Linked DNA regions of Homo sapiens: region 2 is linked to region 1. The links come from fine-mapping of genetic effects on gene expression. A gene starts in region 1. The other region holds a variant in brackets. All regions are shown on one strand. Distances are from middle to middle. Region 1 holds the start of ZNF277 (zinc finger protein 277). Region 2 overlaps ZNF277 (zinc finger protein 277).

Evidence for each region.
Region 2: its variant is fine-mapped to the expression of ZNF277 in whole blood (INTERVAL, PIP 0.91).

What each region holds. Positions count from the first base shown.
Region 1 is chr7:112,203,010-112,211,349 of GRCh38, reverse strand. It overlaps ZNF277 (zinc finger protein 277), which reads right to left and starts at 4,655. Exons shown (of 12, transcript NM_021994.3): 1 at 4,543-4,655. The coding sequence starts at 4,633. It overlaps DOCK4 (dedicator of cytokinesis 4), which reads left to right and starts at 4,951. Exons shown (of 53, transcript NM_001363540.2): 1 at 4,951-5,248. The coding sequence starts at 5,212. RefSeq lists an enhancer at 4,440-4,559 and a silencer at 4,730-5,079.
Region 2 is chr7:112,323,746-112,332,085 of GRCh38, reverse strand. ZNF277 (zinc finger protein 277) reads right to left here. Exons shown (of 12, transcript NM_021994.3): 6 at 4,259-4,369; 7 at 1,870-2,002. It overlaps ZNF277-AS1 (ZNF277 antisense RNA 1), which reads left to right. Exons shown (of 3, transcript NR_186626.1): 3 at 3,688-3,892. Among named protein-coding and RNA genes, the nearest start is that of ZNF277-AS1, 23 kb to the left of the region's middle. The variant T/ATTTT (reference allele first, on the strand shown) is at 3,214.

The DNA of each region.
Region 1 (8,340 bases):
TCAAAATATACTACAGGCGCAGAAAAATAAGGCTTGCTAACTGATCAAATTCAGTACCTGAGGGCGAGTTAGGAATCAAGGATGCTTCCTAGGTTTCTAGCTTAGACTTGATGCCATTTATTGAAATAGGAAATACAAGAATGAGGAGTTTACATCACCTGCTACCCTTCCCTCTTTCTTCCAGAGACATCACACATGAGATAGTAAGTTCTCTGGAAGATAAACATTACCAAAATCATCAGATAATAAGGTCCAGAATCCAAGCATTAGCAAAATCATCAACTACTAAACACCCATTCGGAGGGAAAAAAGTTGACTTTGACAGAATATTACAATATGGAGATACAGATTAATACTCAGAAGAAATAGCCTCAGTCACAAAAGCCTCCTAAATGTATTATTACTGAATTGTGCTACCTTGCTGATTTTTAAAAACAGCAAAAGAACAAATGCCAATGACACCACGTGAGGGATGCTGAATCTATTTATTATCTGTTCTTAATTTTAGGAGACAAATTGAAATTCTGGTTACTGTTCAGATGTATGTAAAGCAGTGTCCTTTAACCCTTGACCTAGTGTGCCAGGTGCAGTAGCTCACGCCTGTAATCCCAGCACTTTGGGAGGCCGAGGAGGGTGGATCACCTGTGGTCAGGAGTTTGAGACCAGCCTGGCCTAGATGGCGAAACTCTGTCTCTACTAAAAATATAAAAATTAGCTGGGCATGGTGGCACACGCCTGTAATCCCAGCTACTCGGGAGGCTGTGGCAGGAGAATCACTTGAACCCGGGAGGCGGAGGTTGCAGTGAGCTGAGATCGTGCCACTCCACTCCAGCTTGGGTTACAGAGCAGGACTCTGTCTCAAAAAAAAAAACAAAAAAAAAAAACAAAAAACAAAAACAAAAAAAGCAAAAAAATCCTTGACCTCAATGTGGGGACTTTCTTGGAGAAGGATGGAGCCACAGAAGTCTGGCAACACAGTGGTCTCAGTGAGTGTTGCACCTGCCTGCACCCCACCCACTGACTCACTCTAGCAGAGATTTTGAGGAATTGCAAGGATTTCTATAAAAAGTCTTCCTAGGCCTCACTGTCCCAGGGTATTAAACACACAGACTAACATTTTAATCAGAGCAAGAAGAAAATCTCTTAAAAGAAGCAGTTTTCAAGAAGTCAAAAAGGTGTATGTTTTTTAAAAATTTTATTTTTATTATACTTTAAGTTCCAGGGTACATGTGCACAACTTGGAGGTTTGTTGCATATGTATACATGTGCCATATTGGTTTGCTGCACCCATTAACTCGTCATTTACATTAGGTATTTCTCCTAATGCTATCCCTTCCCCATCCCCCAACCCCACGACAGGCCCGGGTATGTGATGTTCCCTGCCCTGTGTCCAAGTGTTCTCATTGTTCAATTTCCACCTATAAGTGAGAACATGTGGTGTTTGGTTTTCTGTCCTTGCGATAGTTTGCTCACAATGATGGTTTTCAGCTTCATCCATGTCCCTACAAAGGACATGAACTCATCCAAAAAGGTGTATGATTTTTACAGGGAAAGACATACTTGATAACCTAAATGACTGCCTAACAAAAAATATACTTTTAATATAAATATTTACACCTAAAATTTATATCACACCTTGTTGGCTTTGAAAAGATTTTGGAAAAAGTAACAGAATGATACATAGGTTATTAAGCAGAATTTTTAATGACAACTTTATCTTATAAAAATGACATAAAAAATCAACCATTAATTTCTCCTGTTGACTGCTACAAGTCAATGAGAATACTGGGTATTTCTCACCGAGGGTGAGAAATTTTTTTATGTTATAGATACCGCAAATTCACTACTACTCAACACTTTTATTGAAAACAAACTGGAATCAAAAACTAAGCTTTCTATCAGTTACTTAATTCAATCTACTAGTCATTGAAACATTGGTCCTGGATTATTTCCTCAAAGTTTGTGACAATATGGGGGAAAGAACACTCATATACTACAGGTGGCAATGTATGCTGAATATATTTTAAGAGGAAAGTCTGGCATCTGTCAAAATTTTAAACTTGCATAACCTTTGATCCAGCAATTTTCTCCCAAAATATACAACCAGTGGGCAAGAATATATGTACATAAAGTTGTTCATTGCAACATTACTGAAAAACTAAAGTCACACTATATGTTCATTTATAAGGGAATGGATAAAGAATGGCACAATCATATTTTGGAATATGATGGGCACAGTCCTTAAAAAAAAAGGAAACAAATGTACTGACGTGGAAGGGTTTCTATGATAGACTGCTGAAAGAAAAAAGAAGGTTGCAGATCTTTCAGTTTATATAGATTTATCCCTTTTTATTATAAAAATCAAATCATAGGCCGGGCGCGGTGGCTTACGCCTGTAATCCCAGCACTTTGGGAGGCCGAGACGGGCGGATCACGAGGTCAGCAGATCGAGACCTCCTGGCTAACACGGTGAAACCCCGTCTCTACTAAAAATACAAAAAACTAGCCGGGCTTGTTGGCTGGCGCCTGTAGTCCCAGTTACTCGGGAGGCTGAGGCAGGAGAATGGCGTGAACCTGGGAGGCGGAGCTTGCAGTGAGCCGAGATCGCGCCACTGCACTCCAGCCTGGTTGACAAAGCGAGACTCCGTCTCAAAAAAAAAAAAAAAAAAAAAAAATCAAATCATACAGACGTGTGTCATATAAGAATATGGTGGTTTAACAGAATACGGATTGTAGGATTAAAAAAAAAAAAAGAAGAAGAAGAATATGTTGGAAAGAATATGTACCAAACTCTTATCACTTAATACTCGGGGAGTGGTGCTGTGAGGTGAGGGAATTTTCATTTTTTTTACTTCATACACTTCTGAATGGTTTGAAGTGCTTTTAAAAACTTTTAAACTTGTAAAATTTAAAAATAAATATTTTTAAATATTTTACATTTTTGAAAGGCATATCCTTTTTTTTTGTTTTGTTTTTGATACAGAGTCTTGCTCTGCCTCCCAGGCTGGAGTGCAGTGGTGGATCATGGCTCACCACAACCTCCGCCTCCCGGGCTCAAGGGATTCTCCTGCCTCGGCCTCCCGAGTAGCTGGGACTACAGGCATCCGCCACCACGCCCGGCTAATTTTTGTATTTTTAGTAGAGACGGGGTTTCACCATATTGGCCAGGCTGGTCTCGAACTCCTGACCTTGTGATCCACTCGCCTCGGCCTCCCAAAGTGCTGGTATTACAGGGGTGAGCCACCGTGCCCGGCCATTTTTTAAAATAAGTTAGACTGTGAGATAAATTCACCAGTTTAGATCTTAAACTGGTAGCCCTCTGGAACTTTGAAAATCTAGGAAACCGTAATAGTCTGTTACCATCAGATAGCCCAATATATAACCAACCCAAAAATAAACCATTAGGGTGTTAAATTCAATATTTAACTCAGGAGACTACCAAAGATTTGTTTGGTAGAGGTACTAAAATAATTTCAGAGTAGGGAGTTCCACTGTTGGGAAGTGGGAAAAAACTGCACTTCAACTCTGTGCCGCTGAGGTAAATACTTAAGATGATATCAATTTAACTGTGAAAGCAAAAACAAATAAATCGAAAAACAAAGTCGCAACAGTCTGAGAACTATATTTAAGCCCCAAACCATGTTCATCAGAAAAAGACAACTTGTGCTAAATTACACATCAAGACAAAAATGGGGTGGGGGGAATGGGGGAGGGATAGACTAAAGGTAAAAGAGTCCTAAACACAATCCACCTGCAGCTTTCAAAATTTGGTTTTTTATTCCTACAGTGGATCAGAGGACAACCTGAAAGTCAGGTACAGCCAAAGTTGTGATGGTTTTCAAAACTCTTTTCAAATGTTCTTTGAAGCCACGAGTGCAAATTATCTATCACTTTCCTTTTCTTTCTCTAAGGACCCAGAGACTGGGAAGATCTCTCAGGCTCCACATACAAATCTGAAGAACACCCAGAGCAGTTAACCATCTACAGGGAGGTTGTGAGATACACACACTTTCCCTTCAGAGGTCACCTCAGCCACAAACTGGGCAAATCTGTAGAGTGGAGAGCAGTGACCACCAGTCTGCGACTGGAAATACTCCGGAAGCTAAATAAAACACACCTGCGAGGTCAAACCAAGCAAACCAAGGCAGTGTACTGGTGAGGAGAAAGAGCTGCTAATCCCAAAATTATAAACACACGCGCGCGAACCAGATCTGAACCAAACCCACTCAGCAGCTAGCTCAAAGCTGGGAGCTCCAAACCAGAAGACAAACGCTCAGGGAGCTTCCCCGGCGGAGGGGAAGGCCATTCCATGGCATTTTCTCCGCCATCCCATGGCATTTTCTCCGCCATCCCCGGGCAGCCCCAACCAAGTAGCCGCCACCGGCTCCAACCCATCCCGCTGGGCCACCACCCGTGGGGCCCAGTCGAACCCAGGTGGCCCCAGAGCTGAAGGGCTCCTAGGGTCAGACCAGAGGTCCGTTGCACACCCGGTCATAGAGAAAGGAAGACACATCAGCCGCGCCTCCGGGGCACCGTACTCACCCCCATAACCTACACCCCCGACTGTGCTGCAGCTCCCATCACGGTCTTCCTGCATTCGGGCGACAGCCCCCTGGGTCTTGGAAGCAGCCATTACCCGGCAGAAAAGAAAAGGGAGGGCCGCAGGGCGGGTCGGAGGCGGGGTGGCACCAGTAGAAACGCTACTGGAGGCGAACTCCCCGTCGACGTAATGTTTTCTCCACACCTACGCCGCGCTCTGGACCAATAGGACGCAATCAGTAAAACTGAATCCCCGCCCCGAACCACATTTGCCGCGCCCACTTCCGGGATGGGGAGGCCAAGAACTACAATTCCCAGCGTGCTGCGGGGCCCTGGGACGGGAGGGCTGGACTAGGCGCTGGCGGGCGGGGGTGCGCCGGAGAGTGCCCCGGCGTGTTCGCTTAGTTCAGTGAATCAGAACAATGACTGCGCCGCCGGGTACCCGGGAGCGCGTCGGAGGACTGTGAGCAGCCGCCGCCGGGAGAGCTGCGGGCGGCGCAGTGTCAACGCTGGGCTCGGGAGCCTCCAGCGCAGATCCTGCCCAGCGCCCGCAGCCCGCGCGAAGCCGCTGGGCTCCGGCACTGCAGCGCTGCTCGGGGACTGTGCATTGTTGTGAGCCGGAGAAGGGGCGCGGGGATTACAAAGCCTGAAGACCCCGGAGCCCCTTTAGCCATGTGGATACCTACGGAGCACGAGAAATACGGCGTGGGTGAGTCTCCGCGGGGCGAACTTTTATTCTGCTCTGGCCCGAGCGAGTGCGCATTTCTCGTCCTTGCCCCCGCGCCCCTCTCGCTCCGCCCGGTTGAAAATGCCTAATCCTGGCATCGCGCAGCTGGTACGGGGCTTTGCCGAGCCAGCTCCAGGCAGAGGGCTGCGCACCAGGCTCTCGCCCCGCACCGCCTGCTCGGCGCGCCCCGCACTGGTTCCCGAAGCGCCGGGACAGCTTGGGGGAGCGCGCGGCCGGCCCGCTAGCTTCGGGCTCTGCCTGCGGAGTTTGGAGTGGCGACTGGGCGTGTGTGTGTGTGTGTGTGTGTGTGTCAAGTTGGAAGAGGAGGCGAATGGGGTTTCTCTCCTTCCTTACCCTTCTTCCCCAAAGCGACAGGGAGCTGCAACGGTTCCTCTGGGTGGAGAGGGAGACAACAACACTCGGGCAGAGAGAACACCCCCAAAACAGTAGGGAGGCGCAAACCCTTCCCTCTGGCTCGGATCGACATTCCCGGAGTGTGGAATGTGGCAGGGTCCTGGAGAGAGCCGCTCTGACAAGCTGAGCCCTCTCTGACCCTCCTCCCTCTCTGCGATCCCGGATTTATGGGGTGTGTATGTTGCGGGGCGGGGGCATTGGTAAATTTCAACATCTGCGCCGCTCGGTTCTTTGGTCTTTGGAGAAGAACGGGTATTTCAGCAGTGTTTTTACTTCTGGCCACCCTCTCGACCCCGGGTGAGCGCAGTGGGGGCGGTGTGGCGGTACAGGGCTGCTGAGTGATAAATGGGGAGGGGGATCGGAAAGCCTGGTTCTTGGGGGCAGGGAGATAGCTTTTAGGAAAGCATACCCTGACACTGGCGTTCGGAGAAAAAGGAACAGGATAGCTCTCGCTGTTCTGTGTAAAGGTGAACAACAAAGGACATTAATGTTGACTGATGAATACAGGAGTCTCCCTTCCTTTTCCTCCTCCCATTTCAGGCGGGTTACAGTTCCCGTTTTTGTTGTTTGATTTCAGCTGGGTCGCCCCTTGACAGTTACTCCTTTTAGGGTTGAGACTATTAAGAAGCCAGGCTCTCCGACAAGGCTGCAGCCGGCCAAATGCAATTATAACCTCCCAGAAGGTCTAACAGAAAGCATTATGGATTTTACTAACACTCTTTATTTCCTATAATGCCCTGTTCTGCCGACTGGTGTACTTTGTGTGTGTGTGTGTGTGTGTGTGTGTTTTAAAATTGAGGACAGGTCTAGTGATTTAGGTGATGTGTAGATATCTGCTTATGTTCTAAATTCATTTTCCTGCAATTTAAAACATCTGGAAAGCCTTCCCAGGGAGTCGTAGTCCGAGGGGATTTTTGTTTTTTTTTTTCCCAACTTTGCCTGGGGATAGGACTTTGGGGTCCATTGAAAGGACTGTAGGATTCAACAAAATCATTCCCACATTTCACGTTAGCTTCCATTCTGGATTGTGACTAATTACCAAGACAATAGTTTGACCTGAACCCACCTTTGGGAAAGGTTTCCAGCTTTCCCTCCTTCAAAGTGTCAGAGGAGTCTTTGCCAGCCTCTTTACTGGCAAGGAGTAGATGTTAGTAGTTGTTATTTTCGTTCTCCTCACTCTTCTCTTTTTTGGGAGGTAGATTAACCCTTGCTAGGGAAAAAGATAGTCCCTTTGCTGGACTGGTGAGGGACCCGAGGGCATCGCCTCCTAAGCGGCTTTAACACTCAGTGCAGGAAGCTCAGATCCATCCAGGCAAAACTGTCCTGCTTGGAGTCGATCCCAGATGTTGCTTTCTTCCAAGTGTTAAATTATACAGATTATGGATGGGATTTATTTTCTTGATTTCTTCATGTGCCAGGTCACAGCTGGGGTGCTGGTATCGATTAGTTCCTCTCTTGCCTTTCTTTACAAGCGGTGGGCAGAGGCTTAAAAACCACTCTGGGATTTCCTGGAATGGCAAACCGGATATTATCAGTCAAATGTTTTGGGCTGCAGCAGACACCTCGGTTTTGGGTGGTTGTGATTTGATTGCAGAGTAGGGGAGGCAGAAGGGTGTGCTCACAATTGAGAAAAAGAGGTTGAATGAGATGAAGGACGAGAGCAGAGAGAGGGTCTTTTGCCCCAAATTACTGCTGTTGTTCTCAATATCACATGTGCCAGAATGTTAATTAACCTTTATTATTAATTTTTGAGCATTTGGATTGTGGAATGCTTAGCTGTTTTTTAGAATCCATCTGTTAGGCGTGTGTGTGTGTGTGTGTGTGTGTGTGTGTGTGTGTGTGTAGTGAAATTTTTGCTAGGATACTTATGTGTGGACTTTATTTTTCACCATGGAGGGCACTGTTTATAGCTGCTTATATTGCAAGTTGTTTGTTTTTTCTTTTAACCTTGGTTAATGTTTGTGTTTTTCTCATGTAGTTCTTACAGATGTTAAAGAAAAGATCTTATGGGCACAGATCTTTGTTACCAAGTGTAGTGGTAATTTAGTTTCTTCATTCTTTGAAATAAATCAGTCTTTGTAACAGAATATGTGACGTTTTAGTATAAATTATATATTTCTGCAAAGGTACTTTTTATATACCCTCATTTATGTATGAGATAATTATGCTTTTATATACTTATGATTAAATTTTAAGCAGCATACTGTAAACATGGGTAAAATTAGTTAAATTTTATATCTGTAATTAAATGTATCGGAGATGGAAATTCTTTTTCGTAACTGATGTATAGGCACCGTCCCATTTAATGAATGATTAAATTCATTAAAACAACGAAAAGTCAGTCATAAGTGTTCTGATTTTAGGAAAAGGTATAGTGATGAAGTTATAGTTCTGAGGAACAGGGAACCTTGTCTTTTAGAAATCATGTTAAGAGGCACAGTGATAGGCAATTTCACCTTAGGAGATTCTAGTTAGCTCTTGATTCTGGGCTAGACACTGCTGCCAGCTGTGTAACCTTAGGTAAATCACTTAGCCTTTCTGGGTCCCAGCGTCTGGGGCAAGTGTTAACTAAAGCCTTCCCTGGTACTAATTTTGTAGAGCTCTTCCAACTAACTGTGTTCTTTGGTTAGAAAAACATCTTCATTGTGTTGAGACTGCTA
Region 2 (8,340 bases), 120 kb before region 1:
AATCTGCCATGCTCATCCAGAGATGGCTGGCCCTGGCAGATGATTTCAGTTTTGACAGCTACCCTACTTGATGCCCAGGAAATGAAGTATCATACTTTTCTAAAAGTGCTGGCAGAATAAGAGTGAGCAAATCCCTTGAAGTCTCCTCTAAAAGGTGAAAACCTCCAGCTATATAATGTTCTGCTAGTCTCAAGATCTTGAATATTAGTTTTAAAAGAGCCCCAGAAGGAAGAACTATTAAATTGCTCCTATAGCTAGATGCAGTAGCTGAATATTTCTTAGAGCTAGCACTGAAGTCCACTCCCTATTAGACTGGGCTGGGTCCTGAAGCAGCATTTGCTCTAGGAAGTAATGACTGAGTGATTTCAAGAAAAGATTGAAAAGCTCAAAGGGTACGTTTGCCTTTAGCTGGTTGTAAAACATTTGTAGAAAACCATGGCAACCTCTTAGAGTCAATCTTCAAACACATGTTAAACTTGCTTCTCAAGGGGAATTTTAACACTACAAGGAATAGTTAGAACAGACAAAATTCCACCCTAAAGCAGAGATTTCCAACATAATTCAGGATATGCTTGTTTCTATCCAATAGATAAAATGGCTGATTATATTCAATTAGCCTTTTGTGACCAGTGGGTTTGGGTTTTAATTCATTTACATTGAGAGAGAAAAAAATTCCATTTGCTTAAGAAAAATGCCCATTCAAAACAGAACTCTCTGTTTTTCTTCCAATTCCTCTGGAGAGTTACATAACCTCTTCTTTTATATGAGTAGTTTCCCTCCTTTGTCATATATATTTTTTAAAAATCAGTAGATTGAAGGCAGGCCCAGTTCCCCAGTCATTGTTGTCTATCAAAAATCCCCTCCCATATTTCCAAATGCCTCTCCCCATCCCCCACTGTCTCCATCTGAATGCCTCTTGGAAAGGAGAGCTATCAATACATTTAAAATGCTTGGCATGGTAACCTGGTTAGTCTACCCTACAAGCCAAACAAATAAAAATCCCCTTCCATAGTAAAATGGTTTGGTTTCCTTGAAACTTCCCTTAAAAATAAGCTGACTGAAGAGAATGATAAAGATACACACTTTTGTAGGGGTGAAGGGGAAAGAGCAAAGAGATTGTTTTTAAAGAATTATTTTGCATAGCACCTAACACATCCAGTACTCAACAGTTTCTTTTGAATAGAATATATAGAAGTCTCTCTGGCCAGGTGTGGTGGCTCACTCCTATAATCCCAGCACTTTGGGAGGGCAAGGCTGGTGGTTCACTTGAGGCCAGGAGTTCGAGACCAGCCTGGCCAACATGGAGAAACCCTGTCTCTACTAAAAATACAAAAATTAGCCAAGTGTGGTGTAATCCCAGTGCTGTGCAGCACAGTAGCTGTAATTCCAGCTACTGGGGAGGCTGAGGCAGGAGAATTGCTTGATACCAGGAGGCAGAGGTTGCAGTGAGCCGAGATCGTGCCACTGCACTCCAGCCTGGGCGACACAGCAAAACTCCATCTCAAGAAAAAAAGAAAAAAAAAAAAAAAAAAAAAAAGAAAGGAGTCTCTGGCCCCAAGTTAAAAGATATTACATAAATGGGGGATGGTATGTGGATATCCAAATGCTGTATTTTTTTTTTTTTTGGTCAAGATGACTGTGAGTTCTAGAGACATGACATTTTTACTACATAAACACTGTCAAATAAAAGACAAGTCAAATCAAATGTCTTGTACTCTAACCATTTCAAAGCTAATCACTACTTGAATGTGCCCCTCAATTACATTTTGACTTTTGCAATAATTGCTTATTCAAATATTAGTTGGTCCTCAGAAAGATTTTGTTTGCAGTACTGCAATCAAATTTTAAGTTATGAAAAGAAAGCCTTACCAAATAATTGATGACATAAAATCTGTCATATTCTCTGTTCTTAGGATTAATCTTACGATGCTGTTTTTTCCTCATGTGATCTTTAAGTGTATTTTTGTCCCTGAAGGTCTTCTCACAGTACAAGCACTGCAAACTACAAGAAATACACAAACACTGATAAACAAGTCTCTTGTATAGTTGCTGCAATAATCCTTTATTATTATTGAGTTTCATATTTATTCATTTTAGGTTACACAGCATCTTCAAATGGGATATACCATCCTTGTCAGAATCCCCCCTCACTTTATTCATTTGGCTTTGTAGAGTGCATAGTATGGTGTATTTTGTAGTCAGCTAAGTTGACCAACTTTGCTATTCAGTTAAGACTGTGACAAAGATAGGTAATATCCAAAAATTATTTTGGTTCTTTACTAACTGAATTACCTATTCTAAAATAAGTATGTAGGTATGTTCTTCAATTAATTATAATGACTTGCACTGACTGCACCCATTGTATGTAATAATTAGTACATGGTTTGGGATATCCTGTGAGCTGATTTGCAGGGTTTAATTCCTTGCTCCAGTGCCAGCTAGCTGTGGGACTTTAAGTTACTTCCCTTCTCTGTTGCCATTTTCTGATTTCTAAACTGAAGATAATACCAACATTTTAGAGATTTTTAAATGATAATTTCATATATATATATTTATTGAGCACTTACTATGCACTATGAACTGTGCTAGGTATTTATTCATGTATGTGAATAAGATAAATAGTAGCTGTTACTACCATATAATTCTCATATACCTTCTGCTCAAATATTTCCACTGACTGGGCATTCATTACCTAATGAAGCAGTGATTACCAGTTTTGAGCAGATTATTAACAAAATGTCTTTCTCATACTAAGCCTGACAGTTGATACAACATGTATTATAATTGCTACTCAGTAAAAAGTAGAGAGTTCTACTTTCTGGAGCCATATAGTGTCTAAGTATAATATATTTTACATGGGAAACTCTCAAATGATTGCAATCTGTTATTGTTTCAATTTTGAATTTGTTTTTATCTCTACTAAACACCTTTTCATCAATTTCTTATGCCAAAGAATATATTCCAGGGCATAATAATATTCTTTTGTAGTATATTCTTTTATAGTTGACAATTTATGGGTGATAAGCTGATTATATATATTCATTATTGCTAATCTTGCTAGAAGGCACATCTGGTCTTATTTTATAGGTAGTCGTTTAACAAAAGGGTGAAGGGACTCGATTTAACATAGTGGTGACATCAAAATTTGAGTTAAAAATTTCTTATAATTAATCTGTATTACTTGCTTCCTCTTATTTATTTATTTATTTATTT[T/ATTTT]TGAGACAGAGTTTTGCTCTTGTTGCCCAGGCTGGAGTGCAATGGTGCAATCTCTGCTCACTACAACCTGTGCCTCCCGGGTTCAAGCGATTCTCCTGCCTCAGCCTCCTGAGTAGCTGGGATTACAGGCATGCACCACCATGCCCGGCTAATTTTGTATTTTTAGTAGAGATGGGGTTTCTCCATGTTGGTCAGGCTGGTCTCAAAATCCCGAGCTCAGGTGATCCGCCCACCTCGGCCTCCCAAAGTGCTGGGATTACAGGTGTGAGCTACCACACCCGGCCCTTATTTTTTTTTCTATGTTGTTGCTCTCAGTGTTGTGGGTTGAAGCACCACACTTGTTAGTATTTTATTTAAATAAAGAAAACTGGGTTCTCAGAGAAAAAATTTTGGGCCCTTTCCTAGAAAGAAAAGTGGATACGTTTTTGAAAGTCATTTTGGTGACCTAAAGAATTTTCTTCCTTATTTCAACAGGCTAAGCTCCAGATATGGTTGCCAGAATATGACCTTGAGGAAATGGAGTATTATATACAAATGTGAATGAAAACCAAAAGGCAGAAGAATACACACAGTATGCTACGTTTCACACAAAATTAAACACCATTCCATAATTTGACAATATATTTACCTTATTGAATATGTAGACAAGTTACAGTGAAAAGTAAAGGAATTACAATTACAAAATTAAGAATAGTGGTTTCTGGGGAAATACTAATGAGGAAAGACACACAGGGAGATTCAAAGGAATTAACAATGTTCTATTTCTTAGGCTAGACAGTGAGTATATTCTTCATATCCTATACGGCATACATTGTATGATATGTATATTGTTTGGTATATATGACATAGTGTATTTGAAAAATTTAAAAAACACCAAAGGGCAATATGATCTAGACAAAATAAGGACTGTCGTACAAAATGTGAACTCCTCCAACATGGGAAATTCCCACTTCTTTAATTACTCTATTAAATTAATTTAAAAATATTCACAACAGAGTCCAAGATTAAAACAGCTTTAGGCAGTGTTTCATAAATCAGTACTTACTTGTCAAGCTTTTTCTGTAATGTACACAAAAATTCATTGCAGTTTACAATGTTGTCTGGCAATCCAATGTTGAAAGCATGTTCTCTGGCCATGTGGTTCAAAATAACAGATCTAGGAAGAAATTTGAGCAATTAGGATTATTCACAAATCATCTAAGAACACATTTGGGTTGGAATAGCATTCACATAATAAAAACACTAATTAGAGGTATAAGCAAGTGCTAAGCACTAACACAAAGATTTCAGCTATTAAAGAGTGACATTATAAAGTATGTAAGTGTACACAGTCACATCAGTTCTGTAAAGGGATACCAAAGTTTGTTCTACTATCTGCTGCTTGGCTACACTCTATAGAAGAATCAGGTTCTGTCCTTTAAACCAGGGGTATCGGTCCATGGCCTGTTAGGAAGCAGGCTGCACAGAAAGAGGTGAGAGGCGGGAAAGTGAGCATTACCACCTGCGCTCCGCCTCCTGTCAGATCAGTGGTGGCATTAGATTCTCATAGGAGCGCGAACCCTTTTGTAAACTGTGCATGCGAGGGATCTAGGTTGTGTACTTCTTATGAGAATCTAATGCCTGATGATCTGAGATAAAACAGTTTCATTCTGAAACTGGTCCCTGGTGCCAAAAAGGTTGGGGATCACTGCTTTAAACTATTAAATTAACTGTGCTGCTTCTACTTTTCCAATTCATCATGGAGACGAGTAAGAGGCAACTGCCTAACAGAAAATACAACCAGCTATGACCTAAGATCACAGGCATTTAGCCAGAGTATCATTGGACAATGACCTGGAACCCACAGTTAACAGGTCTATTAAATGCAAGGGCTGTGATAACCTGCAAAACAATGACCAACTTCTTGATTAATTTATACAGAAAAGGACAAATGTAATTATGTAACTTTTACATAGCAAAAAAGCATATGTGTATAGTATATTCTACAGAGCTTTTATCACAACTTTAGTTCATAAAATAAAGGTGATTGTTTTGGAGAGCCTCATCAGTATAAGTACCATTGATAGACTATGCATAGTGACATATCATATGGTTTTATCTAGATTATTTAGACACTTACCTGGTCCCCCCCCAAAAAAATGTTTTCAGTGTTTTTTTTCCCCTTGAGAAAGTGAAATAAAGAAATAAAGCAAACATTTCTATAAAAATGTTTGTTGACTTTTTTTTTTTTTAACTATGTAAGAGATACATTTATTAACCTTGTGGTTAGTATGCTCATTTGTCTCACTGCCTATTACTGATAACTTTGACTAAAACTACTTGTTGGGGTAGTTCACAGTGCCTTTTGGGCCCACAAAGGTTTTCCCAGGGGCAGCCCAGACAGAGCTAGACCTTTCCAGGGGTTCCAGACCTGAGGCTCAGGCTGTGGAAGAGTTCAGGTGAAAGCAGAGCTGAGAGCCTCTTGTAGGCAGTGTGGTAGGTGTGTGTGTGTGTTTTGGGGTGGGGGAAGGGTGTCAGGCAGAGGGTAAGAAAGTTCCCCCTATCCCCGAGGCCATGTTGGGGTAAAGTACAGTGCCTCTGGATTCAGGGAGGTTCTCCTAGAGTGGCCGAGCCATAGTTAACATCTGCCTAGAACTTCCAGGATGAAGATCTAGAGCCTAGATTGTGCCTGGGTGCTGTCAGAAATGGTATCTGACTCAAGGGGTATGGGTGGGTTGGGAGGTTTCCCTCACCCTCAGTCTATCTAGGATCAAAATATCTTGCCATTAAGAGTCACACTGAATGTACTCAGGGGAGCTGAATCCGGCTCTCAACCTCTCTGGGGCTCAAGAATCTGGCATCTAGAGTCTGAGTTACGAGATGAGAGGCCAGTGGTTGGCTCCTGGGGTAAATGAGTTTGGAGGCTTGGCCAGTCTCGAAGACTCTGTTCAGGTAGGCCACAGTGGCTTCTGGGACCTAAGAGGATTGGTTCAGCAAGGATTTTGGCCGCAGCCAGCAGCTTGCTGGGAGGGATGTGGGTGGAACAGACTGACAGTCCTTAGAACTTGTTTCCAGGCTTATAGGCCAGACCTTCCTGACTCCAAAGTGTTCCCCCAACAGTAACCAAGCATGTCAGGTCTACCCAGGGCTTTCAGGCCTGACACCCAAGCCTTGGAATGGACCAAGAGCTGGCTCAGGAGGTATAGGTGTACTAGGAAGGTCCCCATGATCTCAGGCAATGTTGCCCCAGAGAACAAGCCCATGTGTGAGCCTAGGCTTGCTCTGAACTTTTTTGGGGCCTGCCAGACAGGAATACAGATATTGAAAGTGAGGGAACGAGGGCTAACAAGCAGCTGTCTCAAAGCAGATATGAGTGTTGGGAGGCTACCCTGGCCACATACTTAATTGCTACCATCCCTAATGCCTTCTGGATCAAGGACAGTTCTACCACAGTGGGCCAAAATTGAGCCAGGTTTGCCAAGGGTTCTATGACTGACATCTAAGAGCTGGAAGGAGACTGAGTGAAGGCAAAGTCAGTGTTAGGAAGAGGGTTGGTGGGGTTAACAGTCTGCACTTGGTCCCATGCTCTGAACTGGTGGTCCTTGATGTCTTCTGGTTTCAGGTGAGGTTCCCCTAGGAGTGGCCTAGCCTTAGCCAGGACTACCCAGGATTCCAAGCCTGATATCCAGGCTCTGAAAAGGGGGCCAGGTACAGATGGAACTGGCAGCAGGCTCAAGAAGGGGCTGGCTGTCCTCTCCAATATTATGGTAGTTTATTTTACAAGTCAGCTTGACCTGGTTAAAGGATGCCCAGATAGCTGGTAAAAATAGCATTTCTAGGTGTGTCTGTGAGGATGTTTCTGGAAGAGATTAGTATGTGAATCAGCAGACTGAGTAAAGAAGATAGCCCATACCAATGAGGGGAGGCATCATCCAAGCCATGGGGGCCCAGATAGTTGAGCTGGGAAATTCATCTTCTCTTGTCCCTAGGTATTCAAGTTCATGGTTCTCTGGCCTTTAGACTCAGACTGAATTTACCACTGGCTTTCTTGAATCTCCAACTTGCAGATGGCATACTGTGGCACTTCTCGGCCTCCATAATTGTGTGAGCCAATTCCCATAATATGTCTCCGCTTATATATCTATATATAATATTGGTCCTGTTTCTCTGGAGAACCCTGACTAATACAAGTACCTAAGTGGTTTGCTAGCTAATTCAAAATTAGCTTGATTCAGCCTATTAGTCTGAGGTGAGAAGGGAGGAAAGGCTTCACCCTTGTAGCCACAGTTGCTGGTTGGTAAAGGGCCAAGAAAATCTTTGGGGCTTTGGAGTAGAGATGGCACCTTATGTGATCTGCTTCATGTCAGATTTTGAAGTCCTTTAATTCTTGATCAGCCAAGATGATTCCTCAAATTGCTGAATTACTTCTTTAATTTTTAAATTAATTCCTAATGTCAACTTGCTTTAATTTATGGGAAATTAAATGCATAACAGTTTAAATTATTATTGCAACTCCTTTCTTTATAAACTTAATTTTATTATTAATGAACTAACTGTACTTTGAGTACCCATACAACTATTTTGTTTTTTACTTTCAGTGCAATATGCAATAAATTACATCAGATATTCAAACCTTTATTATAAAGTACAGTTTGTGTTGGGCAATTTTGCCTATCTGTAGGCTAATGTAAGTGTTCAAAGCATGCCTAAGGTAGGTTAGGTATATTAAATTTTTTTTGACTTACAATATTTTAAATGTACAATGACTTTATTGAGATGTAACCCCACTGTAAATCAAGTAGCACTGGTATTATATTTTTTCACATTCACAATGGTCCTTAAAAGCATGTAATAACTATAAATACATAATACCTTTTGGGCTGAAATGAAGTTTTACTTAAAATATTATTTCATGTACTTTTCCTTTCAAATATTCTTTCCCTATACTTTAGGAACAAATATTTCCCTACATAGTGCTCTCTGATCTCATTTTTTGTCCTGGTTTAATACTGTTTGTAATCAGTTTTCACTAAACTTATAAATGTGATTTGGGCAAACAGGATTAAATTACAGAAATAGCTTTGAGAGAAGCACTTCTGGAACAGTGGGGCATGGACCTCTGAAAATCTGCTCCTCTATTAAAGCAAC